Homo sapiens: one gene and its partners. The protein of the gene in region 1 purifies or fractionates together with the protein of each later gene. This does not show direct contact. Each region holds a gene or a part of one and is shown on either strand. Other genes may lie near its edges.

Region 1 (7,393 bases):
CCACCTTTTCACTGACCTCATCCTGTATGTCTTCCGTCCTCCAGCTTAAACTCTAAGATCAATTATTATAATTATTCTCTTGCCCTTCTTGTTTCAGGTCTAAATCCAACTCTGCTTATTCACACTGCAGCTGTAAGTTGAATGCGGCTGGAGAAAAATTCATAGCCATGCTGATGGGCCTCATTTCCAATTCATGACTTTAACATTGTCTGACAATACTTTAGGTCACAGTCTAGTCACTCTTCTCTCTAGACAACTATTTCATACCTTCTTCTCTGTCCTCAGACTCCCACTGCCTGTTGCCCCATCCTCACACTCATTTGATCATCTTGCTTTCTATTTCACTGAGAACAATGAAGCAATCAGAAGACGATTTCATAAATCTCACTATCACTTCTACCTGTTTACTAGCATATACACCTCACACTTTGACTTCCTGCCAGTTACCACTAGTGAACTTGCCATGCTCCTAAAGCTGACATCTCCTTCTCCACTTAGGTACTAGATTCCACCTCCTCTTGTCTATTCCAGGACATCCCTCCAATAATGCTTCCTTCTGTCTCTTACATCATTAGTTTTATGCTCCCTACTGGATCATTCACATCAACCTGCTTCTTTACACATGCTTCATCTCCCATTTTAAAAACACGTTCTTTGATCCATTTCCCCACCAGCTATCATCCCATTTCTTTGAAACAAAACTTCTCAAAACAGTTGTATATACTCGCTGTTTTCACTTTTTCGCTTCCTGTTTTCTCTTAAACTTATTCCAGCCAAGCTATTATCCCACCACTCCACTGAAAGTAGCTTGACTACTCTTGTCATGATCCCATTTCTTTGTTTCTTTTTGGAGAAAAATTCCTCAAAAGAATTGTCAATATTCAATCTCCATTTCTTTTCTCCCTTTCCCTTTCAAACATATTTCAACCCCCACCACTCCACTGAAAGTGCTCTTTTTGAGTCACCAGTGACTCTTTGTTGTAAAATCCGACGGTCAATTCTCAGACCTCATACTAACTGACATGTGAGCACCCTGTGACACAGCTGAACACCTTCCTTTACACATTTGGCTTCAAGCACATTGCACTCTCTTGGTTTCCTTCCTACCCTGCTGGTCTCTCTTCAGTCTTCCTTGCTGTTTTTCCTCTTTTTCTTGACCTTATACTTTTGGAGTCTTCAGGGCCCAGCTTATCAGGACTCACTATCTTAGTGTTCTCATCCAACCCTTTGACTTTAAATTCCATGCATGCTGATTATCCCAAAATGTGAATAACTATCTCAGACCTCTCCTGAGCTCTAAACTCATTATGCCCACTTGGCATCTCAACTCTGGTGTCCAATAATCATCTCAAACAATATGTTAAAAAAGAGAGACAACTCTGATTTTCCTGCAAAGATCTTCCTCATTATAACCTTCACCATCTCTGCTTCCAGTAACTCCATCCTACCAGTTGCTCATGTCAAAATCATTGGAGTCATCCTTGACTTCTCTCTTTCTCTTACACCCCATGCTGGGAGGTGGGGCCTTTAAGAGGTGATCAGGTTGTTAAGATGGATTTATGTTTTTCTTGCAAGGCTGGATAACTTCTCATGGGAATGGATTAGTTTTTGAGAGAGTGGGTTGCTATAATGCAAGTCAGCCTCTCTTGTCCATTCTTTCCCAGGTGCTTGCTTGCTCTTCTGCTTTTTTGTCATGCTACTTCATAGCACAGCATATTGGACTTCTCAGCATCCAGAATTGTGAGTTAAATAAGCTTTTCTTTATAAATTACCCAGTCTCAGGTATTCAGTTACAGCAACAGAAAATGAACTAAGAGATCCCATAGCCAATTTACCATTAAATCAGGCTGACTCTACCATCATACTATGTCCACCATCCACCTCCATTGCTGCCACCTGGTCTGAGAAACATCTTTCACCTGGGTTACTGCAGTAGCCTCCCAAAAGATCCCCCTAAATCTACCATTGCCACCATACAGATTATTTTTCACCCAGGAGCCAGAGTGATTCACGCAAAACTTAAGTCAGATTTTGTGTCCTCTGCTCAAAATCCTGTAGTAATTTCCCATTTCACTAAGAATAAAAGCCAAATTTCTTACACTATCATACAAGACCCTACTTGATCTAGCCTCCCTCATTCACTGTGCTCCAGTCACGCTGGCCTCCTTGTTATTTCTTGAACATTCCAGACATGCTCCTGTCTTAGTGCCTCTGCTTAGCACTTCTCGTGCTGAAATGCTCTCCTCCAGGATTTCTACTAGCTGACTCCCTCAACTTCTTTGACTCTTTGCCAAAATCTCATATTTTCAATGAGGCTTCCTCTGACCACCCTATTTCATACTACAATCTCCTCCCCACTCCCTACCCCCAGGACTTTCAATCTCCTTGCTCTATTGTTTTTTCCATAGCACTTATAACTTTCTAATGTGCAATATTGGTTTCTTGTTATTATCTTTCTCCCCTGCTAAAATGTAAACCCCAAGAGGGAAGAAATCTTTGGTCTGTTCACCGTTATATCCAGAGGGCCTATAAGAGTACCAGGCACACAGTAGGTACCCAATAAACATTTGTTGAATGTTTAATAAATATTTGTTGAATGTTTAATAAATATAAAAATGGATTATGTGTTCCTTGAAGGTTTGGTAGCAGTCGCCTCAAAATCATTTGAACCTCATGCTATTTTTGTGGAAACATTTTTTTAAGCTACTGATTCCATTTGTTTATTGTCTCTAGGTCTATTTAGATTTTCTATTGCATTTCAGTCCGTGTTGATAAGTTATACATTTCTATGAAGCCATATATTTCATCTAAGTTTGAAAATGTATTGGCATAAAGCTGTCTAACATCCTGTCTTATATTTATTTAAACCATCAATGTGACTATAATTTTCTCTCCAAATATTGCTTATTTTCTCTCTCCTTTTATTATTAATCTTTGGTTAATGCTCTGTATTGTCTTACATAAATTTCTCCTGTTTATTATTACCTTTTCTCTATGTCCTTTGGCCTAATTCTATTGGTCTTTTATATATTTCTCAAATTATTTTTCATGATGAGTGATACAGCACTTGCCAATATTTCCAGTTTCCTCCTTCCAGGCTCAAGAGAAGATTACACCTCCCTGTCCTATTAAAGTTAGACAAGGCCAACTGACTAGCTGTAGCCAATGATTTATGTCACTTCTGACAGAAACATTTAAAAACCTATGCATGGGGAAAGAATTGTCTTTTCAATAAACAGTGCTGGGTCAATTAGATATTCATATGGAAAAAAAGAAATTGTGACCCCACTCATAAAAATCAATTCCAGATGGATGGCATATATAAATTTGAACAATCTTGGTGAGATAAGATTCCTCTTTTTTTCTTCTTTTTAAAAATAGAGATGGGGTCTTGCTGTGTTGCCCAGGCTGGTCTCCAACTCCTAGGCTCAACTGATCCTCCCGTCTCCGCCTCTCAAAGTGCTAGGATTACAGGTGTGAGGCACTGTGCCCAGGTGAGAGGTAAGATTTCTTAAACAGAGCAGAAAAACACTAAGGTAAAGGGGAAAATGACAAATTGGCACATATTAAGATGAAAAACTTTTGTTCTTCAAAAGGTACCATTAAGATGGTGAAAAAGTAGGCCAGGTACGGTTGCTCATGCCTGTAATCCCAGCACTTTGGGAGGCCAAGATGGGCGGATCACCTGAGGCCAGGAGTTCAGACCAGCCTGGCCAACATGGCAAAACCATGTCTTGACTAAAAATACAAAACAAAACAAAACAAAACAAACAAACAAAAAAACCGGGCATGGTGGTGGGCGCCTGTAATCCCGGCTACTTGGGAGGCTGAAGCAGGAGAATCGCTTGAACTTGGGAGGCGGCAGCTTCAGTGAGCTGAGATCATGCCATTGTACTCCAGCCTCGGCGACAGCGAAACTACGAGTCCAAAAGAAAAGTAACCCCACAGAGTGGGAGGAAATATTTGTAATACCTATACTGGAAGAGAAATATTTGTAATACCTATACTGGAAGAATGACTGACTAGTATCTAGCATGTACAAAGGCTTCCTACAAATCCATATGAAAAATAACGTCAGCCCAGTAGAGAAATAGGGAGAAGCCTCGGATACTGCACAAGAGAGAATATCCTAGTGGCCAACAAACACATGAGAAGGTTCTCAGCTCATTAGACTTTGGCTAAATGCAAATTAAAACCACCATGTAATATCATTACTCATCCAGCACGATGGCTAAAATAACAAAGACGTAAAGACACCACCACAGACTCGCGAGACTGAGGAGTGAGTGTCGCGAGACTGAGGGGTGGGTGTCGCGAGACTGAAGAGTGGGCGGCGCAAATGGGCGAGGTGTTTACTCGCCATTTTGTGTGAGGAACGTTGACGCTACCTACCTCTGGCCTGGCCTCTACCCACTGCTGCCCTGGCCGCTACCAACATGAGCCTCCCGGAGAGTCCTCACAGCCCCGCTACTCTCGACTATGCTCTGGAAGACCCGCACCAGGGCCAGAGGTCCCGAGAAAAGAGCAAGGCGACAGAGGTAATGGCAGATATGTTTGATGGCCGCTTGGAGCCAATCGTGTTCCCACCGCCCCGGCTTCCAGAGGAGGGGGTCGCGCCCCAGGATCCCGCAGATGGTGGCCATACTTTCCACATCTTGGTCGATGCGGGTCGCAGTCATGGAGCCATCAAAGCGGGGCAGGAAGTGACTCCACCACCCGCGGAGGGCCTAGAAGCGGCCTCTGCCTCGCTGACAACTGACGGCAGCCTCAAAAATGGCTTTCCGGGTGAAGAGACGCACGGCCTAGGTGGGGAGAAGGCTCTAGAAACCTGTGGGGCAGGGAGGTCGGAGTCTGAAGTGATTGCAGAGGGGAAGGCCGAGGACGTGAAGCCTGAGGAGTGTGCCATGTTCTCAGCCCCAGTGGATGAGAAGCCAGGAGGCGAAGAAATGGACGTGGCGGAAGAAAACAGAGCAATAGATGAGGTAAACAGGGAGGCAGGGCCTGGGCCCGGGCCCGGGCCCCTGAACGTGGGTCTCCACCTGAACCCCCTGGAGTCCATCCAGCTGGAACTGGACTCCGTGAATGCAGAGGCTGACAGGGCGCTCCTGCAGGTGGAGCGCAGGTTTGGGCAGATTCATGAATACTACCTGGAGCAGAGGAATGACATCATTCGCAATATCCCGGGCTTCTGGGTCACTGCTTTCCGCCACCACCCACAGCTGTCTGCCATGATTAGAGGCCAAGATGCCGAGATGTTAAGCTACTTAACCAATTTGGAAGTGAAGGAGCTCAGACACCCTAGGACAGGCTGCAAGTTTAAGTTCTTCTTTCAAAGAAACCCTTACTTCAGAAACAAGCTGATTGTAAAGGTGTATGAGGTCAGATCCTTCGGCCAAGTGGTGTCTTTTTCCACTCTAATCATGTGGCGCCGGGGCCATGGACCCCAGTCCTTCATTCATAGGAACCGACATGTCATCTGCAGCTTCTTCACCTGGTTTTCAGACCACAGCCTTCCAGAGTCCGACAGGATTGCTCAGATTATTAAAGAGGACCTCTGGTCAAATCCACTGCAGTACTACCTGTTGGGTGAAGACGCCCATAGAGCTAGACGTCGCCTGGTAAGGGAGCCAGTGGAGATCCCCAGGCCCTTTGGGTTCCAGTGTGGTTAACCTTTGCCTTTGGAATTACTCCTGCAGAAGGTTGCCTGCCACCACCAGCTGGACCTGAGCTTGGGCAACAGCATTAGGTATGCCCTTTACTTTTTTTGTTCTGACTTTCCTGTACCCTCTGTTTAAACTTTCCGTTCTCTCAACCTGAAGATTGAGACCTTGGTGGCTGTGCTGCTCCCCTTTCACCTGGTCGTCTTGCTATTCTGCATTAACATCACATGCTCCCAGCCGATGGGTCACATCCTTCTAAGCGAAGCGAATGATGCTGTAGGTTACACTGTATTTACCTTTGTTTGGACTCGGTTTGTTCCCAGGACCTCTGGTCTGGCTCCTCCTACTTGGATTTCTAGCTGTGTCTAAGAACCTATTCAGCTCACCCTGCTCTGCATCTGACAGTACAGGTGCATGGCCTGTGGACAATTGCTGGGCATTAATGAAGTCAAGGGAGAACAGCAGGGGGCAAGTTGGTCTGTGTGAATTATGGGACCCCATTACTTTTCCTGAGACTGGTCACCTATTGCTGCCTGCTACTGGCTATTCCCAAGTACTGCTACTTGGGCAGCTCCCTGCTGAGTGAACATATCCCAGACCATTGCCAGCTCCACTCTCTGGTTTCTAATAAACAGGGATCTCCAGAACACTGGTGGTGGACACAGCTTTCCTGTCAGCACACAAAAGACCTGTTCCTCTTCCAAAAGACCTCTCTTTACCACCACCACCCTCATCACTCAGAAACCCTACTGTTTGTTAGACAGGTGGTTGAGGGGACATGTCAGACCCTATCCTCATGGCAAGGTTAATATGTTGGTGTTCTTGACAAGTACCAGGCTTTCTCAGCCACAACCAGTGGATTCATTCAAAATCTAGGTACCTTTATTTGCCTCCCTTCCTGAACCTAATGAAGTGCCAGAGTGAGTGTACACTTTCTTTTCTCTCATCTCTCATAAATCTCTTCTGTCTTCCTTTAAAAAAAACAAAAGTAGTAGTTCAGAAACATCCGCAGAAGCAGGCTTTTTAGTTTCTTGGCTCTCTTTGTCATGTCCAGAGGCAGGCTGTTCTGTAAAATAGACTGCCAGACCTCTTATTGCCCATTCTCCTTTCTTCTCAGCCCCTCACCCCTCTTTAGCAATTCCTAGAGGGTTTAAAGGACTACAGAGCTGTATGGAATGAAAGGTGATTTCTAGTTCAGAGTGGATAGAAGAACTAAAGAGATTGTGATGGGTGCTCTAGGCAGGGAAAACTGAACAAAAAGGCAGAAATGATTCAGGGGAAAATCGGGCCTAGAATTTACACTGGGTTGACTAGTTATGATGGGAAGAGAAGTACTTTTTTTTAGTATGCACGTAGAAGAATAGAAGATGGTTGGAGTGTTAAATATGTTCCCTAGAGAAGGGTTCTTTGAAGAAACACTGCAATTTTGGGTGTTCTCTTTCTTGTTTGCATATGGCCTTACTTATGTGGAAGATTAATACTGTGTTATAATATTTTCTCTTTCTGTTTACTGGGAAGATTCAGCTGTACAGATTTTCTTTTACTTTCAAATAGAAATATTTGGAATAATATCAGTCTTTCTTTTTTGTACATTATGTGGATATGGATATTCATGGCAGTTTTCAGCCTGTTCTTGTTTCTGTTAAAACCGTATCTTTAACATTTTAATTTGAATAACTTGGTCTTATCTGATGCGGAAGACTGGAAACTATTGTGTTCATGGGTAAATAAAC
Region 2 (7,457 bases), on another chromosome or scaffold:
TGCCCTCAGATAATTTTTTGTATTTTTGGTAGAGACAGGGTTTCACCATGTTGCCCAGGCTTGTCTCGAACTCCTGAGCTGCCACCACGCCAGCTAATTTTTGTATTTTTTAGTAGAGACGGGTTTCACCACGTTGGTCAAGCTGGTCTTGAAGTCCTGACCTCAAATGATCCATCCGCCTCGGCCTCCCAAAGTGCGGCCTCCCACCGTGCCTGGCCAGCCCTTATTTTTAGGTGCTAACATTTTTTCATGATTATAAAAACAATATGTGCTCAGTAGAACAGTTTAGAAAATACAAGGCTGGGAGTGGTGGCTCACGCCTTTAGCAATCCCAGCACTTTGGGAGGCCGAGGTGGGTGGATCACTTGAGGTCAGGAGTTCGAGACCAACCATAGCCAACATGGTGGAACCCATCTGTACTAAAAAAAATACAAAAATTAGCTGGTGTGGTGGCACACGCCTGTAGTTCCAGCTACTCGGGAGGCTGAGGCATAAGGATCGCTTGAACCTGAGAAGCAGAGGTTGCAGTGAGCCGAGACCATGCCACTGCACTCCAGCCTGGGAGACAGAGTGAGACTCTGTCTCAAAAAAAAAAAAAAAAAGTTTAGTAAATACAAAATGCAGAAAATTATTTTTATTTATATATTTATTTATTTTTTTGAGACAGAGTCTTGCTCTATCGCCCAGGCTGGGGACAGTGGCACAATCTCGGCTTACTGCAACCTCCAGCCTTACCCTCTTGAGTAGCTGGGACCACAGGCGTGCACCACTACGCCTGGATAATTTTTTGTGCTTTTGGTAGAGATGGGGTTTCACCGTGTTGCCCAGTCTGGTCTCCAACTCCTGAGCTCAAGCAATCCACCCACCTCGACCTCCCAAAGTGCTGGGATCACAGGCGTGAGCCTCTGCGCTCGGCCTAAATTTTTTTAAATAAAAATTTTATTTACGGTCAGGCGCGGTGGCTCACGCCTGTGATCCCAGCACTTTGGGAGGCCGAGGCGGGTGGATCACGAGGTCAGGAGATTGAGACCATCCTGGCTAACACGGTGAAACCCCATCTCTACTAAAAATACAAAAAATTAGCCGGGCGTGGTGGCGGGCGCCTGTAGTCCCAGCTACTCGGGAGCCTGAGGCAGGAGAATGACGTGAACCCGGGAGGTGGAGCTTGCGGTGAGCTGAGATTGGGCCACTGCACTCCAGCCTGGGCGACAGAGCAAGACTCCGTCTCAAAAACAAAACAAAACAAAACAAAACATATATATATATATATTTGAGAGATGAAGTCTCGCTCTGTGGCCCAGGCTGGAGTGCAGTGGCTCAGTCTCAGCTTACCACAACCTCCGCCTCCCGGGTTCAAGCGATTCTCCTGACTCCCAAAGTGCTGGGATTACAGGAGTTACTGCACCAGGCCCACTTTATTTTTTAGAGCAGTTTTGGCATCACTGCAAAATTGAGCTGAAAGTATCAAGAGTCCTTTGTACCCCTCTCCACACACAGACACAGCCTCCCTATCAACATCCTGTCCAGAGTGGTAAATTTCTTGCAGTGATGAATATACAGTGACACATTATCAACCAAAGGCCATAGTTTACATAAGGGCTTCCTTTTGGTGTTGTACATTCTATGGGTTTTAATTTTTTTAAATAAAGATTTTATTTTTTAAGAGCAATTTTAGTTTCACAGCAAAACTGACAGGTAGGTCCGGAGAGTCCCATATACCTCCTTCCCCCATGCAGTCACGGCTCCCCTGACTACCAACATCCCTATCAGAGTGGTAAATTTGTTAAAATCGATGAACCTACATTAACACATCATTACTAACCAAAGCCTGCGGTTTACATTAGAGTTAGTTCACCCTTGGTGTTTACATTCTGTATCTTTGAACAAATGTATACTTACAAGTATCCACTATTACAGTATCATGAGAGTATTTTCGCTACCGTAAAAATCCTCTGTGCTGTCTGCCATTAGTTGTTTTTTGTTTTTGTTTTTTTAATGTGGGGTTTTGTTTTGTTTGGTTTGAGACAGAGCCCTCGTCTGTCGCCCCGGGCTGGAGTGCAGTGGCGCCATCTGAGCTCGCTGCAATTTCTGCCTCCCAGCTCAAGTGATCCTCACACCTCCGCCTCCTGAGTAGCTGGGACTACAGGTGCACACCAGCACACCTTGCTAATTTTTTGTATTTTTTGTAGAGAAGGGGTTTCACCATGTTGCTCAGGCTGGTTTGGAACTCCCGGGCTCAAAGGATCCAACCGTCTTGGCATCCCAAAGTGCCAGGATTACAGGCGTGAGTCACTGCGCCAGACTTAAAATGTGGTTGTTAATGACTACGTCTGTTGCATAACCAAAATCCCCTATTATTGGGCATTTAGATTGTTTCCTTATCTGTTTTAAAGAGGAGAAAACTAAGGCCCTTCACTTGACAAGTCACTTGTCCAAAGTCACCTGGCTAAAAAGTAGGCAGAACTGATATTAGAAATCTGGTCTGACTCCAGAACCCATTCTTAGGCCACCACACTGCGTCTAGAATTAATAACACACCACTTAACCCCGTTAGATCAGCTCCCCTCAACTTGAAAGATAGTGACCAGGCACCTCCACAAGCAGAGCAGCCAAGGATTCAAGTATATGTTGAGGAAGGCAGGCAATACAGAAAAAACTAGGTGGCTCAACTGAGATGGAACAAGCAGAAAATGCAAAGGGGAGGTCCAGGAATAGAAATAAACAGGAGGTAGGAGATGGGTACACAGAATGCTGGTTAAGACAAAGAGAAAGCTGGATTTGGGAAATCTAAAAGTAAGAAACTCTGGCTTTTATCTCTGTATGTAGGAGGGAGCAAAGATAACCTCAAGGCCATGTGGGGAGCTAGCAAGGATAAGGTTTCTGGGAAAAGGAATGAGAAAAGGGAGGGTAAACTCCCGAGGACTACAAGAGCAGGAGAGGCTTTGTGTGGCCAGGAGGAGAGGCCAGAAGTCAACGAGGCAGGCTAGAATAGGCACTGGATACCAAACCTTCCTGTTCCTAAGGAGACTTCCTTCCAGCCTGAGCCTCCTCTAGTAGTTCGGCTACTAAATGCTCTCAGCCCTTAGGGGCTGTGGTGGGAAGTGGGGAGCGGGGATTGTAAAGTGCTCTAACTATTAATATAATGCGGACTGAGAATGGATGCTGGCACAATTTTTTAAAGGCAGTAGGCTTAACGCTAGTGCCACCTACCCCTACTCCACTTCTCTAGCCTAACCTCAGCCACACCCACATGCTAAGGACCATCCAGGAGGGGGGAGCGTGTAGCGCGCCTGCGTGCTCGTGCGCACGAGAAGCAGAGAGGCAGAGAAGGAGACAAAAAGAGATAGGGGGAGAGAGAGAGAGAGAGCGAGAAGAGAGAGACAGACAAGGACAGAAAGGGGGCTGGAGGAGAAAGAGAGAGAGAGATACAGAGAGAGAGAGAGAGAGAGAGAGAGAGAGAGAGAGAGAGAGAGAGAGAGAGAGAGAGAGAGAGATCAGCCCTGGTGAGGGAGGAAAACTCCATAGATAATACAGGGAGCTCCTGCAGGAAGACTCAGGGAGAAGATCCCAGAACTTACCCTAAGACTGTTGAGAGAGTAGGGGGTAGCTTTGCAGGACCTGGTTTGGGGGTCATCAAGCAGTAACGGTTACTGCACAGGCGTTGCCACTGAGCCAGAGCCATTTAACCCGACCTGTGTGGCTGGGGATCAAGCTTCAGATACCCCATAACTCTGACTCTCAGACTGTTTTGGGGGCCCCGTGGCTGCAGACAAGGGAAGGAGGGGCACGTGAGGGCTGGGTCCCTGCCTCCCCCCGTCCTCCGCTGTCACTCACTACCCCAACAGTCGCCCAGGGGGCGGGACCCGGAGAGGTGGGGATGGGGGAGGGTAATCTTGGCAGGCGCCTGCTGCATGGCGTAGGTAGGGACTATTGAGGGGGGCGGACGCCGAGGGGGTGAACACGAGTGGGAAGCTAAGAGAGACACGGGGAGGGGGAGGGGACCGGGAACCATTTGAATGAGAGGAGGGGATCACGGGTAGAGTGGGCTCCAGGAGGTAGGGCGAGCAGGGTGTGACGGGGGCCAGACTCTTGAGCCAGGTAAGGGGAGCAGGTGCGTAGATCTGTGTTTTTTGTGGGTGAGCGCACTCGGCCCTTGGGTGGAAAGGGGACGCCGCCTTTCCCGGGGGGCCGGCTTCAAAGCTCCAGAGGCTATCTTTTCCTTCTCAACTAACGGGGCCCCGGGCGGGGGCTCAGGCGCCGTCTCTAGTGGCTGCATTCCACTCCGCAATTTCCAGGCGGCCACTGGACTGGGAGTCTCGCGCCGGGGGCCGGCGCTGTCTCGCGAGCCCCCTCCTCGAGCCAGCCAATGGGGTTGGTTGCTGGCACCGCCCGCCCGCCTGGTGCAGAGCGCTGGGCGCTGCGAGCGGCGCTGCCATTTAAAGGGGCCGCGACCCCTGTCCCGGCTGCTAGGGAGGGAGGTAGAGAAGGAGCGCGGGGCCGTCGCTGTCTGCAGTTCTAGGCTTGTAGCCTTTGCACTAACCCTGCCGCAGGTAGGGGTCGGGCCTGCTCAAGCCGAACCGAACCTGCAAGCGGGATCTTGCAGTAGCCGGGAGGCGGTGGTGGGGGGGTCTAAGGAGAGATCGTAGCTCCAAAATGTCTTCCTGTAAATGCCTGAGGTTGGGGGTGGGCAACAGGAGAAGGGAGGACTGGAGGAGCAATGGGAAAGGGGGACGGGGCTGAGGAAGTGGGCGACCTGAAAGGTAACTGGGGGGAAGGGGTTGCGAAGGGCAGTTTGTGGGGGCGGGGGAAGGGCCGAGGGAGGACCTAGCAACGCGGGGAGGGGGGGTGGGGCCAGACAGGGTGGGTAAAGACTGGGGAGCTGGGGGGCTCCTGCAGAGTGGGGAGGGAATAGAAACTGAGATCGCGGGGGCGGGAAAGGCTCCTGGTGGCGACGGCCTTAGGAGACTCTAAGGGGGCGTTCAGCCTGAGTTGCGGGGGGTAAAAGGTAAGGGGGGAAGGGAATGGGAGTTGCAGTCGAGTAGGGGGGTGGGCGGGTAGAACGACCGACTGCCTGGCCAGTGTGGGCACGGGGCCAGGGCGGGGAACGCCTCTCCCCACTGGGGGCGCTGTATTGGGGGGAGTGGTCATTAGGACTAAAGCCTTCGGAAATGCTTGTAGATTGTGGTGGTGGGGGCTGCTCATGAGAAATCCAAGTGGATGATGGGGTGTGTCTCAGAGCCTATATAAGAAGGAATTCAGGCTAAGACCACCTCTACTGCCCCCTCTTCTACTCCTAATCTGCAGTACATATCCAGCCATACTCATGGACCCCAGTGATTTCCCCAGTCCATTTGACCCATTGACCCTGCCAGAGAAGCCCCTGGCTGGAGACCTACCAGTAGACATGGAATTTGGAGAGGATCTACTGGAATCCCAGACTGCCCCAACTCGAGGATGGGCCCCCCCTGGCCCTTCTCCATCCTCGGGAGCCCTGGACCTGCTTGATACCCCTGCTGGCCTGGAAAAAGACCCTGGAGTCCTGGATGGAGCCACTGAGTTGCTGGGGCTGGGGGGGCTGCTCTATAAAGCCCCCTCTCCCCCGGAGGTGGACCACGGTCCTGAGGGAACCCTGGCATGGGATGCAGGAGATCAGACCCTAGAGCCTGGACCAGGGGGCCAGACCCCTGAGGTGGTACCACCTGATCCAGGGGCTGGGGCAAATTCCTGTTCACCTGAGGGGCTACTAGAGCCTTTGGCTCCAGATTCTCCAATAACACTGCAGTCCCCACATATTGAAGAGGAGGAGACCACCTCCATAGCTACTGCAAGAAGGGGCTCCCCTGGGCAGGAGGAGGAGCTTCCCCAAGGGCAGCCACAGAGCCCAAATGCCCCGCCTAGCCCTTCAGTGGGAGAGACTCTGGGGGATGGAATCAACAGTTCTCAGACCAAACCTGGGGGCTCTAGCCCCCCTGCACATCCTTCCTTGCCAGGTAGGTTGCCTAATTATCTGGAGAATCAGGGCTGGGAGAGGGTGGTGGTAAGGAGGGGTGGCTATGTGCTTTGGGAAGTAGTGGGGAGGAGGAGGGTGGAGAGATAAGTGTAGGGATGTGTGTGGGGAAGGACTTGGGGTTTACGAGGGAGGAGTGGGGTGGTGTGTAGAGGAAGATTAAGGAAAGTAGGGGTGGGCACAGGCTGTGGGGGAGGAATGGGGTAAGGTTTCAGGGAGCGTAGGTTGGGAGGAGTGAATTTGGTGGGAAGGGTTCCCTTTTTCCTACCCCAGTGGGCTTTTGGTGCCAGAGTCCTTCCTTCAGGATTTGGGGGAGTACACCAGGCTTCTTGGTTCTAAGACCTTTACAGCTTTTTGGTTCTAGATGGGAGTGGGATTTCTGGGTTTGATGAATGGTAACTAGGTTCTGGAGCCCCTAACAGCATAAGGATTTCAGCAGAGCGATAGAAATGCAGGGTCTAGGATTGCGTCTCTGATAGGGGAGGGACAACCTTGACTTGAGAGGCTCTAGTGTCTCCCCTCTTCTGCCTAGTGGTGTGCCTCTATCAGGCTGTGACGAGGGTCTTAGGGCTTATATAACCACCTGAATCCAGGGGAAGCTACCCATACACTGATGCTTCCTTTTCCTTTTGCTACCTTTGGGTGGTTGTGTGTGTTTTTCATTGGTAAAATATAAATTCTTAATGAAAGGTATATTACCTGTGTTTCCTTAACCCCCAAGGATTGGGACAGAAAGCTGGTGGGAAGGATAGATTTTTTTTTTTTCATGGAATAGCTGCACGTGCACCCCCCCACCCTTAGTACAGAGCCTGAGGTAACCCTGAGAGGGGCCCCAAGAAGCCACAGGCACTCGAGTTTTCCCTTTCAGTTTTGAGTAAGTTCTTCCCCAGGAATGGAGGCGGGGGTTGGGCCGGGGAGAGGGTGGTGAGGGCAGGCTCAACATTTAGGCTGCCTTCTGCTTCCTTTGCAGGAGATGGCCTGACTGCGAAGGCGAGTGAGAAGCCGCCTGAACGGGTGAGGGGGAGGGGATTGGAAGGAGTCTGGTTCCCCCTTAGCTCTGGGAAGGACAGACCCTTCATTTTCCCTCCCAGATGTTGTTCTGTAGAGAGTGTGTGTAAGGAGAGTTAGGAGGAGGGAGGGAGCACTAGTGTCTACTGCTTGTTGGGGAGAAAGTCCAACCTCCTTTTCTTCCCTCCTCCTAAGGGCTGGGCCAAGGGTCCCCACTCTCCCTTCCCCCTCCCATCTTCTATCCCCCCCCAAACCCTGTACTAGTGTTAGCCTGGCCAGGGTGTCAGTTTTCCTCCCCTCCCATCTTTCCGAGGTACAGAAGAGAAGCGAGCGCGTTAGGAGAGCAGAACCTCCAAAACCTGAGGTTGTAGATTCCACTGAGAGCAGTAAGTAGGATTTGAGGAAGTGTGACCTGGGAGTTCTGGGTGTGGAAAAGGTCCGA
Region 3 (7,260 bases), on another chromosome or scaffold:
TAATCTCAAGGATGTGATTATTATTTCTATGCTGACAACTGCCAAATTGTAACCCCTAGTTTTGTGCTCCAGATCCATACATCCCACTATCTACAGGTCTCTCGAACTTAGCAAGTACAGACCAGAACCTCTGATCTTCCCCTCCATTCCCTGACAACTGCTCCTTTCCCAGTCTCACCCAACACAGCAAGAGACACCCAGAAACCTGATTTATTAATACACCTTTCCAATTCAGTCTCCAAAAAGCAGCCAGGGTACCTTTCAAAAACACCAATCTGCCTGCCTTGTGCACCTGCTCCCTTCTAAGGAATCCCGTACTTCAGGCTAAGAAACAAATCTGGATCAGGCCGTAGGTGATGTGGCCCTCCAATCTCATGCCCTTACTTCATGCCACCTTCCCCAGGTAAACCGTCCTTCTTTCAGTTTCCTTGGGCTCAAGGGCCCTCATGTGCTATTCCTTTTGCAGGAAAGCTCCATCTCCAGTTCCTTACCTGGTTGGCCTTCTTCTCACATGAGGCACAGCTTAAAACATAGCACTTCGTCCGAGAGATGTCCTCTGCCTCCCAGTTTAAAGTAGACCTCTGTGTTGGCCAGGCGTGGTGGCTCACGCCTGTAATTCCAGCACTTTGGGAAGCTGAGGTGGGTGGATCACTTGAAGCCAGGAGTTCCAGACTAGCCTGGCCAACATGGTGAAATCCCGTCTCTACTAAAAATACAAAAATTAGTCAGGTGGCCTATAATCCCAGGTACTTGGGTGGGTGAGGCACAAGAATAGCTTGAACCTGGGAGGTGAAGGTTGCAGTGAGCCAAGATTGCGCCACTGCACTCCAGCCTGGGTGACAGAGTAAGACTCTGTCTCATAAATAAATAAATAAATAAATAAATAAATAAATAAATAAATAAATAAAGTAGACCTCTGTGATTCTCTCCCTTTCTTGGGCCTGCTCTCTTGCCTCTTACATCACAAAGTGTCACCATCTGTGGTCACCAGTGTTTCGGGGGTGGTGCTATTATACCTCTCTTCCCTCCTGAGAGGGGTCACAGGAGGGCAGGTTTTGCCCACTGCTGCAGACCCAGTGCTGGGCATGTGGTAGGTAGTCAAGGTCCTGAATGAATGAAACAATGGCCGCAACTCTAGTTCAAGCCCTCAGCTCTCACCTGGACAGTTACTAGAGCCTCCTCACTGGTCTTGCTACCTTCATTCTGTCTTTCTTCATTCCAATCCACCTTCCACAAGTGCTGACAAGAGTTCTAAAAAAACACATTTGATCCTGTCACTCCCTTCATTAAAAGGCCAAAGGTTCCCCCACATCTTCCAGTGTCAGTTCCAAATTGCTTCACGTGACATGAAAAGGCTTTTATAAGACAAGCTGGTTCCAATTTATCTTTCCAGCTTCGAACTCTGACACTCCAAGTCCCACACTGTGATGTGGCCAAGCTGTTACTGGATGTTCTTTCACATGCCTAGTTGTTCCTCCAGCTTTGAAGGCCTTCCTTACCCTCCTCTAATGACTATGTACCCTTTAAGACCCACATCAAACATCACTTTCTAAAAGCATTTCTTGGAACTCCCCCAGTGAACTTAACATTTTAAAAAACTTTAAAATGCATACTAAAGAATTCCTGCGGCAGCTAGCCCTTGGTATTTTGTTCATATCGCTGTGCTGACACGTGCCCAGTACTCTCTGTCCATTCTTACTAAACTGTGAGCTCCCGGAAGGGCAAGAGCTCATCTGGCAACCATGCATGGTGGGTCCTGTAACCAATGAGTTTCTGGAATTAATTTCTGGTTCCAACTCTATCATCAACTTGCTACCTGATCTGGACAATTCACTTATGTGCTCTTTGACTATTTCCTCATCTGTAAAATGGGAACAACTCCCCACCCTCCCTGTAGAGGCCATAGGTAAAAGTGCCTTGAAACCTGTAAATGTCACACCACAGCAAAGCACGACACGATGACTACTTCACCACCATTCCTGGCACTCTCTAAGGAACAAACCTCCGGTGACCCTTGCTCTTAGACATTCTGACCAAAATCTGATAAAAATGTATCCACATGGCCAGAGGATCTCCTTACTATGAAGGGCAATCGATTTCAGCCTCAAGCTGTAAATGCAAAGCTGGCATTAAACCACACACAGTCTTAGCATTCTAAATAGCAATTTCTCAAATAAAATGTAAAGTGAGTATGAGATAACTCATGCTTAAATCATGAAGAATGAGGAGCTGCCTTCCAGCCTGCAACTCCCAGTCACCAGGGCAGGGATAGTTCTGGCCAATGCAGCCTGAGTGCTCCCAGAGCCCTGAGATTCTGGGGACGTGTGGTCTCCAACTCCCTGCCCTCCCCCTGCCACGACACACAAAACTTTCTTGTTCTCTAAGCGGCATTCTGTACCATCCTCGGCCAGGGCTGCCTCCGGGTCTTGTTTACTAACAGCCCTTACATGGCTCCAATCCCTGCCCCCTCCAATCACACTCTCCCCTACCTAAACAATAAAAACCCACAATGATTCCAAATTCACAATTTCTGCTAACAGTGCAGAGGAGGCCAATTTTGTGCGCTGCTCCCCAAACTCAGCACCAAAAAAATAATCATCCAGCTACTTAGAAATCACTTCTGCAGATGATACTAAAAAAACATCTAGGTAAATAAAATATTTTCTGCTTAACTTTTTTTTAATGGAAAATGGGATTAAATACTTTTCCTCTACAATCTGTCAGTCCAGATGGCAAGTTTTGTTTCCAGTCAACTCAGAGGAAACTAGAAGAGATGGCATGGTTCATAAGATCTTATCAAATCCACTGGCAATGTCAAACAGGAGCACCCTGGGTGGATACTGATTTGCATGAATAGCAAGTACCATAACTGCAAAAGAATCCAAATTTTAACTGCCATTTGTCAATTTGAATTTTCTTCCCCAAACAAAATTATTTCTTAAAAACCATACTCTATAATGTGTTTTTGTTCCAAGTTAATGATGTTAAAACCATGCAACAATGCAAAAGGGAGGGGGTCCCACATAGCCTGACCCTTGCGCCTCAGGGGCAAGGTCCCAAGTAGAGATTGGAACCCAGGGCTTCTAACTCAGCAAGCCTACCTTATCTTTTCCACTTGGTAGAAAAGTCATACTGAAACAGACGAGGAAGAATATTAAATATGAAATAGCAATACTTGAGGCTGAAAGATGCTCCAACAGCTTTAAAAAATATAATCTACTTGGCAATTTCTATATGCCACATTTAACAGTCCTGACATGTTCCTGAACAGACAGCTCAGATATCTCAGGCTCTTTCCAGAATGAAATTGAAGATACTAGAAACCCCAGTACATACTACAACACTGGCAAAAGCTATGTCATGTGACCAAACTTTAAGCGCCAGGATTTCCAACTATGTCAAAGATGAGTTTACAGTAACTATTTTCAAGAGCAAGTGAAGTACTCCTTAGCCAAATGACTGTCAAACATACATACAAAAGCTTTGGCTACAATTTAAGCAGCCTAAGGAAATGTCATCAAGTTCTTTGATCTGCATGAAATGTTCTGGTGATGTGAACCAACTTTGGAATTCCACATTTTCTTACTTAAATTATAAATACCGAGTTACAGTACTGTCCCTATCTCCATTATAGAAGAGTTTTAAAACACCTGTTATAGACACCTGAGCATGCTCCATAAAAATGCACAAAACAGTCACCCCAAGGAAGAACAGGTAAGGTCAACAAATTAATCCACCACATTTAAACTTGGGCATACTAGGTAGGAGGGCTGGGCGAATAAAAAATGGGCTTAGCTTGAAGTGCAAAATAAGGCCGACTACCCTCGGTAAGAATGTATCAACTCTTAAAGGGATTCTTAACAGCTAAGACAGGGTGCTACTTACTTCCTCATTAAAAAGTTTGCTAGTTTCTTTTTTGATTGGGTCTATAAGCTGGACTTGGCCTGCGGAAAAGCCCACTAGGAGAGAGACACTTTCTGCTGTGGCTGTTAGGTGGTTGAAGTCATGACAAGTAGGCTGTGTTCCTTTGTATATCCTTTTATCTATTGGTTTACTCAAGTCAGCAGCCTGGAGGAGAAAGAGAAAAATACATACAGTAAACAGCACATTGAGATGAGAAATCTAAGTTATGCTACTTTATACTCCATTATGATGTTTCATCTTAAAAACAAAGTGATTTAAAATGTTTTTTCAGTTGTGACTTAACATCATCTAACATTTTATAAAAGCACTTTCACATACCTTAGCCAATTAGATATTATTAGACTATCTATAATATGTTTACAACTGTTACTTTCACAACTTATTCTCCTTCAAATATATGTAACAAAGACTCCTGGACTTCAGCAGGAAATATCCTTGAGATATTAAATTCAGTATTTTCAAAATGCATTTCAAGCAGTGTCTAACAGAGTAACCACATAAAAAGCTCGGCTTTCAAATGTATCTACAGCACCTACATGCCCACTGGCCAGTTACCTGCAGCCCAGTGGTTCTCAAAGTGTAATCCCCAAACCAGAAGCAGCAGCAGCAGCATGTGGGAACTTAGAAATGCAAAAATCTCAAACCTCACCCCAGACTAAATGAATCAGAAACTATGGGAGTAGGGCCAGCAAGTCGTAAAGAGGCTTCCAGGTGATTCTGATGCCCGCTCAAGTCTAAGAACCACTGCTGGAGCCCACTCTATACAGGTGGCTCCCTTCCTGGGTCAAAATCCCTCTTCTGGATTAGGTTTCGGGGAACATTACTTATCGAGGCCATAATCAAAGGACTTTACATGCATTGTCCTTAATCCTAACAATAATGCTCCAAAGTGGACAATATTTTACCCATTTTACAGATGAGAAAACAAGTTTAGGGAAGTTAAATAACTTGACCAACGTCACCATACCTACCTAAGTAAGTGGCAGGGCTGGATTTGGAACCCAGGTCTGTTTGACCATTAAGGGGATGGGGAGAGAGAGTCAAAAGCAAATGATTTCTCACTTGGGTGAAAAGTGATTTTTCAATGTGCCCTCCCCACTTTCAAGAAGGATTCTTTTCTTCATGAGAAATGTCCTGTGGCATCCCAATATGCTGGGCTTTTATTGGTGAAATAAGGGAAACCCACCCCCTCCCACTCTTGTCTGAAAATCTCCAGTGGAGACAACTAACCCTGAAGCAGAACTTGTCCCTCAAGACACCCAGTTCACGCTGTGTGGCCCTCTGGGGCTCCCGGCTCTAGTTCTCTACTGACCGCCCCCTCAGGTTCTGAAGATTTCTTTCTTCCAAAGAGGCCTGTGACATCGAACCAAGTATTCTAATGTTGGACTTTCCAATAACAAATATAAGTAATGAGTAGAAAAGAGGACCTCAAAATTACAGGCGTCTTTGAGCAAACTCAAAACCTTGCACATGTAGAAGTCTGGACCTGAGCGGTAACAAGTAGTTCTGGGAGCCCCAGGGCAAAGGAATGAGGGTGCATGCCATGCGGACACTCTCCCAGCCTCACCTCAGTTAAAACGGAGATGAGAATCTCTGTTCTACCAACCTCATGGGATTGTCTGGAGGATGAAATAAGAGAATATATACATGAAAGAGCCTTGAAAAGTGTAATACAAAGCATGATACAAAACAAAAGGGAGTCCTGACTGGAGCGAGGAGAAAAGCGGCCAGTGGAGGGGAGCGGCCGCTGTACAGCAAGGCAGGCTGAAGGCAGCTCAGCCGAGTGCTGCGAGTGAGCAGCGGGGCCTGGGACGATGGCCACGGACAGGCTGTCTGAGGAAGGCAGCTTCTGAGCGGCTCGGATGGCAGGGAAAGAGAATCCTGGCCTGAGAGAACACCACATGCCATTCATCTCAGAACGAGGAAGACAGCCACAAAAAAAAAAACAAAAAAAAAACCTACAAATATAAAATAAGATATAACTGGCAGCTAGAGAACAAAAATCCAATTTGAAATACGAACAATTAAGTTATACATAATTACTGTATCAGCATATTCAACTCTTGAGACTTTTTTTTTTTTTAGTTTGCTTAAGAAAAATAAAAAATCAGCTAGGTGTGGTGGTGCATGCCTGTAGTCCCAGTTATTCAGGAGGCTGAGGTGGGAAGACTGCTTGAGCCCAGGAATTCAAGGTGACAGTTAACTAGGATTGCACCACTGCACTTCAGGCTAGATGACATAGCAAGACAAATGACAGCAACAACCACTTAGGGAACTTTCCCCTGAAAGAATATACCTAAAATTATGCGCTGAAATACACAGATCAATTTAAAGGCTGGCCAGAAATTAACAGAGAAAATAGCCTAATATAAATTAAAAAATACGTAATGTTTCTCAGAAACAACAGAGGAAGTAAAAGCACCTGTTTTTCCAAGTACTGCCACCAGTTTAGAGTTAGACTTAGGGACCCCTCACAACTATAATGGCTTCAGTTATTGGTATATTTTTACATCCCTGCCTCCCAATATGGAACTTTACTGAAAAGATGGAAGCATTTTAAATGAGAAGAGATTATTTTTACTCTTAAATCAGGTAAAATGGGCCAGAAGGCACGGTGGCTCACGCCTGTAATCCCAGCACTTTGGGAGGCTGAGGCGGGTGGATCACCTGAGGTCAGGAGTTTGAGACCAGCCTGACCAATATGATGAAACCCCATCTCTACTAAAACACAAAAATTAGCCGGGCGTGGTGGTGGGCACCTGTAGTCCCAGCTACTCGGGAGGCTGAGACAGGAGAATCGCTTGAACCTGGGAGGCGGAGCTTGCAGTGAGCCGAGATCGTGCCACTGCACTCCAGTATGGGTGACAGAGCGAGACTCTGTCTCAAAAAAAAAAAAAAAATTCAGGTAAATATTCTAAAAATATCCTGTTTATTCTACTAATTTGCTTAACAAACTTTCTTCTTAGGTCACTGCTCTTGAAGTGTACCAGTCCAGGACTAGTTTATTAGTCTGCAGTCAAATGCACTGCCTGTAGTACAGACATTGAGAATAAGAGTTTAGAAACTTTTATGGCAACGGACAAATTTTATATCTGTTGAATGTAATGATAAAAAGTTAGAGTTTATATTCTGTATGTCTTTTTCAGTTTCTTTTCCTATTAATTCTTTTTATTTTACAAAAGTATCAATCCACATAGACTAAAATTTTTTTAAAGTTGATCTGTCAACACTAGTGTGAGTGGCACTGTCTAGAAGACACAAAAGTAGACCTGGCTGACCCCAAGGAACACTTAGAATCTCTCTCACCTAAGGTCACTCCTCCCTCCCCAATCCCTT
Region 4 (7,260 bases), on another chromosome or scaffold:
AAGAGTGAGAATAATTATGAAAACTAACAAGCATGAAGGCATCATAGCTCACACAGTGCTTCCATGGGCAGGATCTCTTCTGATGCTCCCCAAAAAGCTTTAAAGAAGGTATTTCATTGACTACCTTTGTTGTAAAAAGATAAATAGGATCTGAGATTTACCAAACAGGATTCTGAATTCCAAACTCCTCCACTTTACAACTATATGGAAAATAGAAGTTGTTTTGTTTTTCCCAAAGCCTTGCTGCTCTAAAAATGGTCCCGAAACCAGCATTATCTGTACCACCAGAGAGTTTGTTAGAAGTGCAAAATCTCCGCCCTGCCCCAGACGTGCTGAATCCAAATTGACATTTCAACTAGACCTCCAGCTAATGCCTATGCATGATAAAATTGGAGGCATACTGCTTTACTCCAAGGCAATTCTTCCATTCTACCAAATTACATCCCTTCATTCATTTATCAATATTTATTTATTGAGCACCAACCACATATGTGCTAGGCACTGTGCTGACAGCTGGGAAATCAACACTGAATAATACAAATAAATACAGTTCCTGCCCTCATAGAGTTGTCAGTCTAACATGGTGGTTTATCAACCTTGGATGCTCACATCGGAATCAACTGTGGCACTTAAAATACACACACACACATACACACGCAGGTGCCTAAAATTCACCCCAGACTACCTATATCTACATACTGTCAGAAACGCTGGAGACTGGGACCCTAGAAACTGCATGTCAATAAAGCTCCAATTGGTGGAACCACTTTGGAGAGCAATTTGACACACCTAGCAAAGCTGCAGATGGGCGCATCCTAAAAGCAGCATATTGACTTCCAGGATTATACCCTAAAGAAATGAAGACACCTGAGCAAAGAAGACAGAAGCAAGAACATTCGCTGCAACACTGTTTCCAGAGAGAATATTGTAGAAACTACCAAACTGCCCCTAAATAAGAGAATGAATAAGTAAACCATGGTTAAGTCAAAGAATCCTGTTACAGAGCAGTCAGAATGAATAAACTCGACCTCTATGTGTTGACATAATCTCAAATATACTTGTTGAGTAAAGAAAGACAGTTGCAAAAAGCTACACGATTTTATCCACACACAAACGTTGCAATCCATTGCTTATGAATTCATAAATACAAAGTAAAGTATAAGACATGTTTGGTAAACACCATATCAACTTCAGGAAAATGGTTTGCTCTGGGAGGAAGAGAAAGGAAAGAGATTGGGTTGAGTTAGTGTCTGTTTTTAAGGTAAAAGAGTCTAAAAAGAGTTAGTGCTGTTTTTACAGTAATATGTCTAAAAATAAAAGTAACCAAATATGGCTACATTTTAATATCTGTTAAATCTGAAGGGTAGGTAAACATATATAACATTATTTTTTCATGCTTTTTTGTATGTTAATGTTTTGTGATTTAATTATTATTTTTAAAATTTCTTTTAAAAGCTTCACAGGTGATATGATATAAAGCCAGTGCTGAAAATCTCTGTTCTGAATATATAAACTAATACAAAACCTGGCTATTTAATACCAAGAAAAAGTTAAGTTGGCCGGGTGCAGTGGCTCACGCCTGTAATCCCAGTACTTTGGGAGGCCAAGGTGGGCGGATCACGAGGTCAAGAGATCAAGACCATCCCAGGCAACATGGTGAAACCCTGTCTCTACTAAAAATACAAAATTAGCTGGGCAAGGGGGCACGTGCCTGTAGTACCCTACTCAGGAGGCTGAGGCAGGAGAATCGCTTGAACCTGGAAGCAGAGGTTGCAGTGAGCTGAGATCATGCCACTGTACTCCAGCCTGGCAACAGAGTGAGACTCCATCTCAAAAAAAAAAAAAAAAAAGAAAGAAAGAGAAAAAAGAACAGAAAAAGTTAAGTTACTAGCTTAAATAATTTTACATTCATTTTTTTAAAAACTTTCACATGGCAGGTAATTTCTTAAGCAATATTTTTTAAGAGGCTGAGGTTATTACCCAAGGGAAGCAATATTTCTCCAAGCATGGTCCTCAGCTCACCTATAACAGAATGTGGAGGGAGTAGAAGGAGGAGGGAACACTAATTTAAAAGGCAGATTCCAGAGCCCCAACTAAGACCTACTTAATCAAACTCTCTGGGTGTTGAACCCCAGAGTCTAAATTTTTAATAAGAGAATGCACATGTGGGAACCATTCTTTGGTACACCAAAGAACCTAAAACCATACATTTCTTTGTTTAATGAGGTAATACTCATCATACTCTGAAAATTAAAATGAAGTGTAGAGAATACTTTCTAAATATTTAAGACAGTAATTCCACCAGTATATATTCAAGCAGATCCAGATAAAAATTTTCCTGCACTGTGTACCTAACCTGAAGGACAGAGAAATGTATTTTAGGAAGATGACCATCGTTTCACAATGCCTTTCTAAAAGAACTTGAAAAAGCAACTGGGTAAACAGGAAAACTCTGCAAGTCCAGCTTTGCTGCTGTTCTCACCAGAACAGGCCCCAGACACGATTTTCACTAAAGCCAATGTCAATTAAACAAAGCAAATGTGGCTTGAACAAGGCCTTGCTGGCACAGGCAGGTCTCCCAAATTTACTCTCAAAATTCAAGGTATCTTCTCAGTGCTACTCTATTATCTTTTTGTTACTAGTTTTCACCCCTCCACAGTGATTATCTTGTCATCATTTTTTTCACCTGCATCTTCCAATCCATCCCTACCTTTCATGACTTTTGCTTTGGTCTCCTTGATTTTCCTCTTCACTGTCCCTTCTTCATTGTCCCTGTTTTCAGACAAAACCAAAACTACAATCCTGACTTTCAAGACCTGGAAAACTGTTCTCAGGCCCCTGAGTTGAAAACAAACCAGCATAACAAACACATGAAAAGATGTTCAACCTCCCCTAGCAAACAGGAAAAGTGCAAATTTTAAACCACAAAGGCACAATGTCACACCCATCAGACTGGCAAAACATCAAGTCTAGCAATATCAAATATCTGCAAACATGTGAAGCAACTGGAACCCCCAAACGCTGCTTGGTTGGAATGCAAATTGGCATAACTTCTTTGGAGAGCAATCAGGCAACTTATTAAAGAAGACGATCAAATTCCTTTGACCCAGCAATTCCCTTCCAGGTTTACACCACAGAGAAACTGTCAACTGTCAACTGTGTATACTATACACAGGGAGATGAGTTCACAACTGTTCATTGCATTAAAACAGCACACTCACAAATTTGTAAACCTGCTTACAACATTAAAATGAATGTGTCATAGCATATTTATATAATGGAATGTTATACAGCAGTTAAAATAAACTAGGATTATGTGTCTCTCAATGGATAAATAGCAAAATCACAATTTAAACAATAAAAGCAAACTGAGAGGAATGTTTAATATTATAAAGCATGTTTAAAACATGAAAAAATACACTATATCTAGTTTATGAATGCATACAAATCTAGTAAAAATATAAAAATATACAATAAACACTAAATGCAGAATAGTGGTCACTCTGTGGGGAGAGGCAATGAGATCAGGAAGGACTCATAGGTGGTTTTAAATGTATATATAGTATTTTATTTCTTCACTGGGTGGGGAGTACACGAGTATTCACTCTATTATTCCACATTTCTGTATGTCTAAAATTCACCATCACTCAGAAAAAAAGGCAAAGTCTGAGCTAATTTAAAAAGTATCTGAGGGTTCTAAAAGTGACATTGGAACTTGAGGAAGAAAAGGAAGGTTGGCCCTATGAGGGTAAAGTGAAGCTTTGGCGACCACAGAGTCCCATCACCATGATCTTAAAACTATCCATTGCAAAGAATCATTCTGAGAATTGGGGTAAACTTCCATGTACAGCACTTACAGCATCCCTCAAACTTCAAGCCATAGTCCCAGAAGAGAAATATTCCAAAAACCCTTTACTGTTAGGGTTGTTCGCTAACACAGAGTTCGTCTCAAGAATGTTTTCGTGGCAGGGCACAGTGGTTCACACCTATAATCCTAGCACTTTGAGAGGCTGAGGCGGGCGGATCACCTGAGGTCAGGAGTTTGAGACCAGCCTGGCCAACATGGTGAAACCCTATCTCTACTAAAAATGCAAAATTAGCCAGGCATGGTAGCAGGCAACTGTAATCCCAGCTGCTCAGGAGATTGAGGCAGGAGAATCACTTGAATCCAGGAGGCAGAGGTTGCAGTGAAGCCATCGCACTCCAGCCTGGGCAACAAGAACAAAACTCTATCTCAAAAAAAAAAAAAAAAAAAAAAAAGATTTTGCTGATTGATTTTTGGGTGGCCTTTTCTCTTAAAGACCACCAAGGCCTTTCAAACCCTTAGATCAGCATTTGGTTCCACCACAACTGAAGGTTTGTTATAAGAAGCTGCATTAAAATAATTAGACCAGAAAAGTTAACTAGACTAAAAGACACCATCTTTTACATCTCTTCCAGTTAGTTAGCTTTGGGTGGCTTCATGGGTAAGCTAGAGATAGAGATAGGTGGTTACCAAATACCTTTCTGATGATACCACAGAATTTAATACCATCATGGAACCCCAATCTATTCACACTAACTAGAAAGACCAGGAGGGGGAAAAAAAAGACATCTGAGCTAGAGAAATTTCTCTTAATTGCTAAGAGAATCAAAATTGAAAATGCCTTTCAATTATAACCCAAACATACCAAAATTCCACTTAGTGAAGAATAAATAAACAGATTTTATGGTATGAGTGAACTGAAGCACATAAAGTTGTTATACAGAAAAGGTATCATAATCTTTCATTCTAACTAAATACCAGCATTCAACTTTGTTTTCTCTGAGGAGTCCAAGAAAAACAGAAAAATCCGCAGAACTAATTGTCAGGTCCCGACCTAATATAAACCTCTGCATATGAGACCAGTGGGGCCAGAAAAACAGAATTTCTTTTCTTTAAACATTAATCCACCTCACCTCAGACTGTATTTTCTAATCCCAGCAACTATCAGAGTAGACCCTCATATGACTTTACACCTAGCTGATATATTAACTAAACTTATAATTGCCAACTATCTTTGAGAATGGAAAGCATGAATAACAGTAACAGAGGAAAAGGCAAGATATCTGTTCCCCCAAATCACAAGATGGACATATTTTTTAATAATTAAAAAGTTGTTTCCAACCATTCTCAAAATACTTGCCTTAGGTAAGTAGTTGACTTATCAAGATAAAACTATAAAAATACTCTAGTTTTGTTTCAAAATTGTAATGTTTACTTTCCCTTTATTTCCAGATAACTTCATTTATTTATATGATACATTTTTATTTACATGATTTTGTTTGTTTCTTTTTGGTAGAGATTGGGTCTCACTATGTTGCCTAGGCTGATCTTGAATTCCTGGGCTCAAAGAATCCTCTTGCCTCGGCCTCCCAAAGTACTGGTATTACCAGTGAGCCACCATGCCCAGCCTACCTCATTTATTTAAAAGAACTAAAATCTGGCACTCAAACTGATGTCAAAAATTATCCTGAGGCTGTTCTACAGACGCTAAAATGCTAACATGTCATAAGTTCAATACAGTTTTAAACAAGGTAGTTAGGTAATGAAGTGGTTGCTAACCAATTAAGAGGTGCAGATTTTCATAAAGCCTTTATCTAAGGAATTCTACCATGAAGTTTTTCATGACCAAAAACAGAAAATCAGTTTTACAAGATGAGAAAAACTAAGGTCTCCGGAAATACAACAGTTTGCCCAAAAGCACCATTAGATTCATGCTTAACTGGAGAGACACCCAATGGTGCAGATTTCAATTCTAACTCACATTGACTACAATCATGTCCTCATATAAAATAAAAGCCAGAAGCAGAATGTGTATACAACTTTGGTCAAACGAGAATGTATTTTTGAAATGTCCTGTTGTGTTAATCGGTCTTTCCACTGTACAGCTGCTGGGAGTTTATTCAACTTCTATCTGTGCTGATATAACACTGTATTGAAATTGTTTCATCTTTACCAATGTTAACACCCACAAGATAAGGAACAGCTGAGCCCCTTGGGGACAGGGACTCACCTCATTCATTTATTAAGCACTTGAGTATAGTCTGTGCCAACACCAACATAGCAGGTCCTCAACAGATGGCCATTTATCGGAACAAAACTCGTAATCATTTGATACACAGCATTTTCTCAGAGGTACATCTTACAGCATTATTAACAAATGAAATAAGATTAGATGATCTGAAGCAACTTGCATTGGTATGTCACATTTGGTTTCTTCTAACTAATGCTTCCTTTTTAGAAAATTTCTCAAGCTCTTCAAATAGGAAACTTAAAAAACCCAAAAACAAAAACTTTCCATTTGCAGGGCCATAAAAATATATAGGAAGTTAAATCCATTGGTCTGGACAAAAATCAGAGGATTATCAACAGAAGACATTTCCTCATGCTTGGTAGCAGCTAGTGCATTATGAAAATTACAACACACCAGCCAAACAAGCTTTACTATCTCTGAACCACACACTGCTGTGTGGCCAAGCTGCCTTGCCCTGAGCAAGTTCATCAAGAATTACCATGGCAGGAATTCACATGGAAGAAAAATTAAAACAAATAGAAACTAGTACTAAACTTCCAGTGAACAATAAAACTTCAGCAAGTGGGTGGGTAAGTGGAGGAATGAAGATATTTTCCAAGTTTCCTATAACTAAAACTGGCACAAGAAGTATGGGGAAAAGAGGGGATGTTTAGTTCTCAATCACACGAAGTATCTGCTACAAATTTGATTTCTGCTCTGCTGGGTCCTTTCTTATCTGGTGGAGGAAACAAATCCACTTTCAATGATAGATCTTCGTTTTTTCCTGTTACCCAGAAAAATGGTACCTTCTAATATCCTTTCTGAACACATATCAGCCTGTTCAAAATATGTTAAACGATGTGCTTAAGAAAAAAATGCAATCACCATTTGCTCTTACTACAACTACTCAAACCAGCTGGGACCAAAGTTAGGAGCGGGAAGGGTCAGTAAGAGGCCCACAGAGGAGCTAAGCAGTGAGAAGGGACCTGTAAGACACCTACCTGAAAACAATTCATTATTGAGCAAAGAATCTAAAGAGAGGTCCAGTTAATATTTACGTCTGATCCAGTGAAAAGACAGCAGTTTCCTCATACCCAGCCTTCTCCTCTGGGAAGGAAGACTGGGAGGGACAGTGGGGGCGGTGGGTGGGGGATTGACCTGAGCAGGGGGCGGGGTTAAGGATTCCCACTCCAGCCTTCCTATACATGGGAGGTGTTTATATTAG

The links.
Region 2: the proteins of TSPYL6 (region 1) and ZMYM3 purify together in Homo sapiens (affinity purification with mass spectrometry; 2 studies listed by BioGRID and IntAct, with this or other methods). This does not show direct contact.
Region 3: the proteins of TSPYL6 (region 1) and WDR20 purify together in Homo sapiens (co-immunoprecipitation; 3 studies listed by BioGRID and IntAct, with this or other methods). This does not show direct contact.
Region 4: the proteins of TSPYL6 (region 1) and USP46 purify together in Homo sapiens (co-immunoprecipitation; 3 studies listed by BioGRID and IntAct, with this or other methods). This does not show direct contact.

What each region holds. Positions count from the first base shown.
Region 1 is NC_000002.12:54,253,195-54,260,587, reverse strand, and holds the start of TSPYL6 (testis-specific Y-encoded-like protein 6), read left to right. Parts: upstream 1-4,358; 5' UTR 4,359-4,436; coding exon 4,437-5,669; 3' UTR 5,670-7,393.
Region 2 is NC_000023.11:71,251,122-71,258,578, reverse strand, and holds the start of ZMYM3 (zinc finger MYM-type protein 3), read left to right. Parts: upstream 1-4,438; 5' UTR 4,439-4,550; intron 4,551-4,842; exon of another isoform or gene 4,843-5,005; intron 5,006-5,304; 5' UTR 5,305-5,323; coding exon 5,324-5,990; intron 5,991-6,977; coding exon 6,978-7,021; intron 7,022-7,334; coding exon 7,335-7,401; intron 7,402-7,457. UniProt on the Homo sapiens protein: Plays a role in the regulation of cell morphology and cytoskeletal organization.
Region 3 is NC_000014.9:102,191,746-102,199,005, reverse strand, and holds part of WDR20 (WD repeat-containing protein 20), read right to left. Parts: intron 5,544-7,260; coding exon of another isoform or gene 5,492-5,543; intron 4,069-5,491; coding exon 3,886-4,068; intron 3,880-3,885; exon of another isoform or gene 3,133-3,879; coding exon of another isoform or gene 3,102-3,132; intron 1,252-3,101; coding exon of another isoform or gene 1,159-1,251; intron 1-1,158. UniProt on the Homo sapiens protein: Regulator of deubiquitinating complexes. Activates deubiquitinating activity of complexes containing USP12. Anchors at the base of the ubiquitin-contacting loop of USP12 and remotely modulates the catalytic center of the enzyme.
Region 4 is NC_000004.12:52,649,260-52,656,519, forward strand, and holds part of USP46 (ubiquitin carboxyl-terminal hydrolase 46), read right to left. Parts: exon of another isoform or gene 7,052-7,260; coding exon of another isoform or gene 7,037-7,051; intron 1-7,036. UniProt on the Homo sapiens protein: Deubiquitinating enzyme that plays a role in behavior, possibly by regulating GABA action. May act by mediating the deubiquitination of GAD1/GAD67.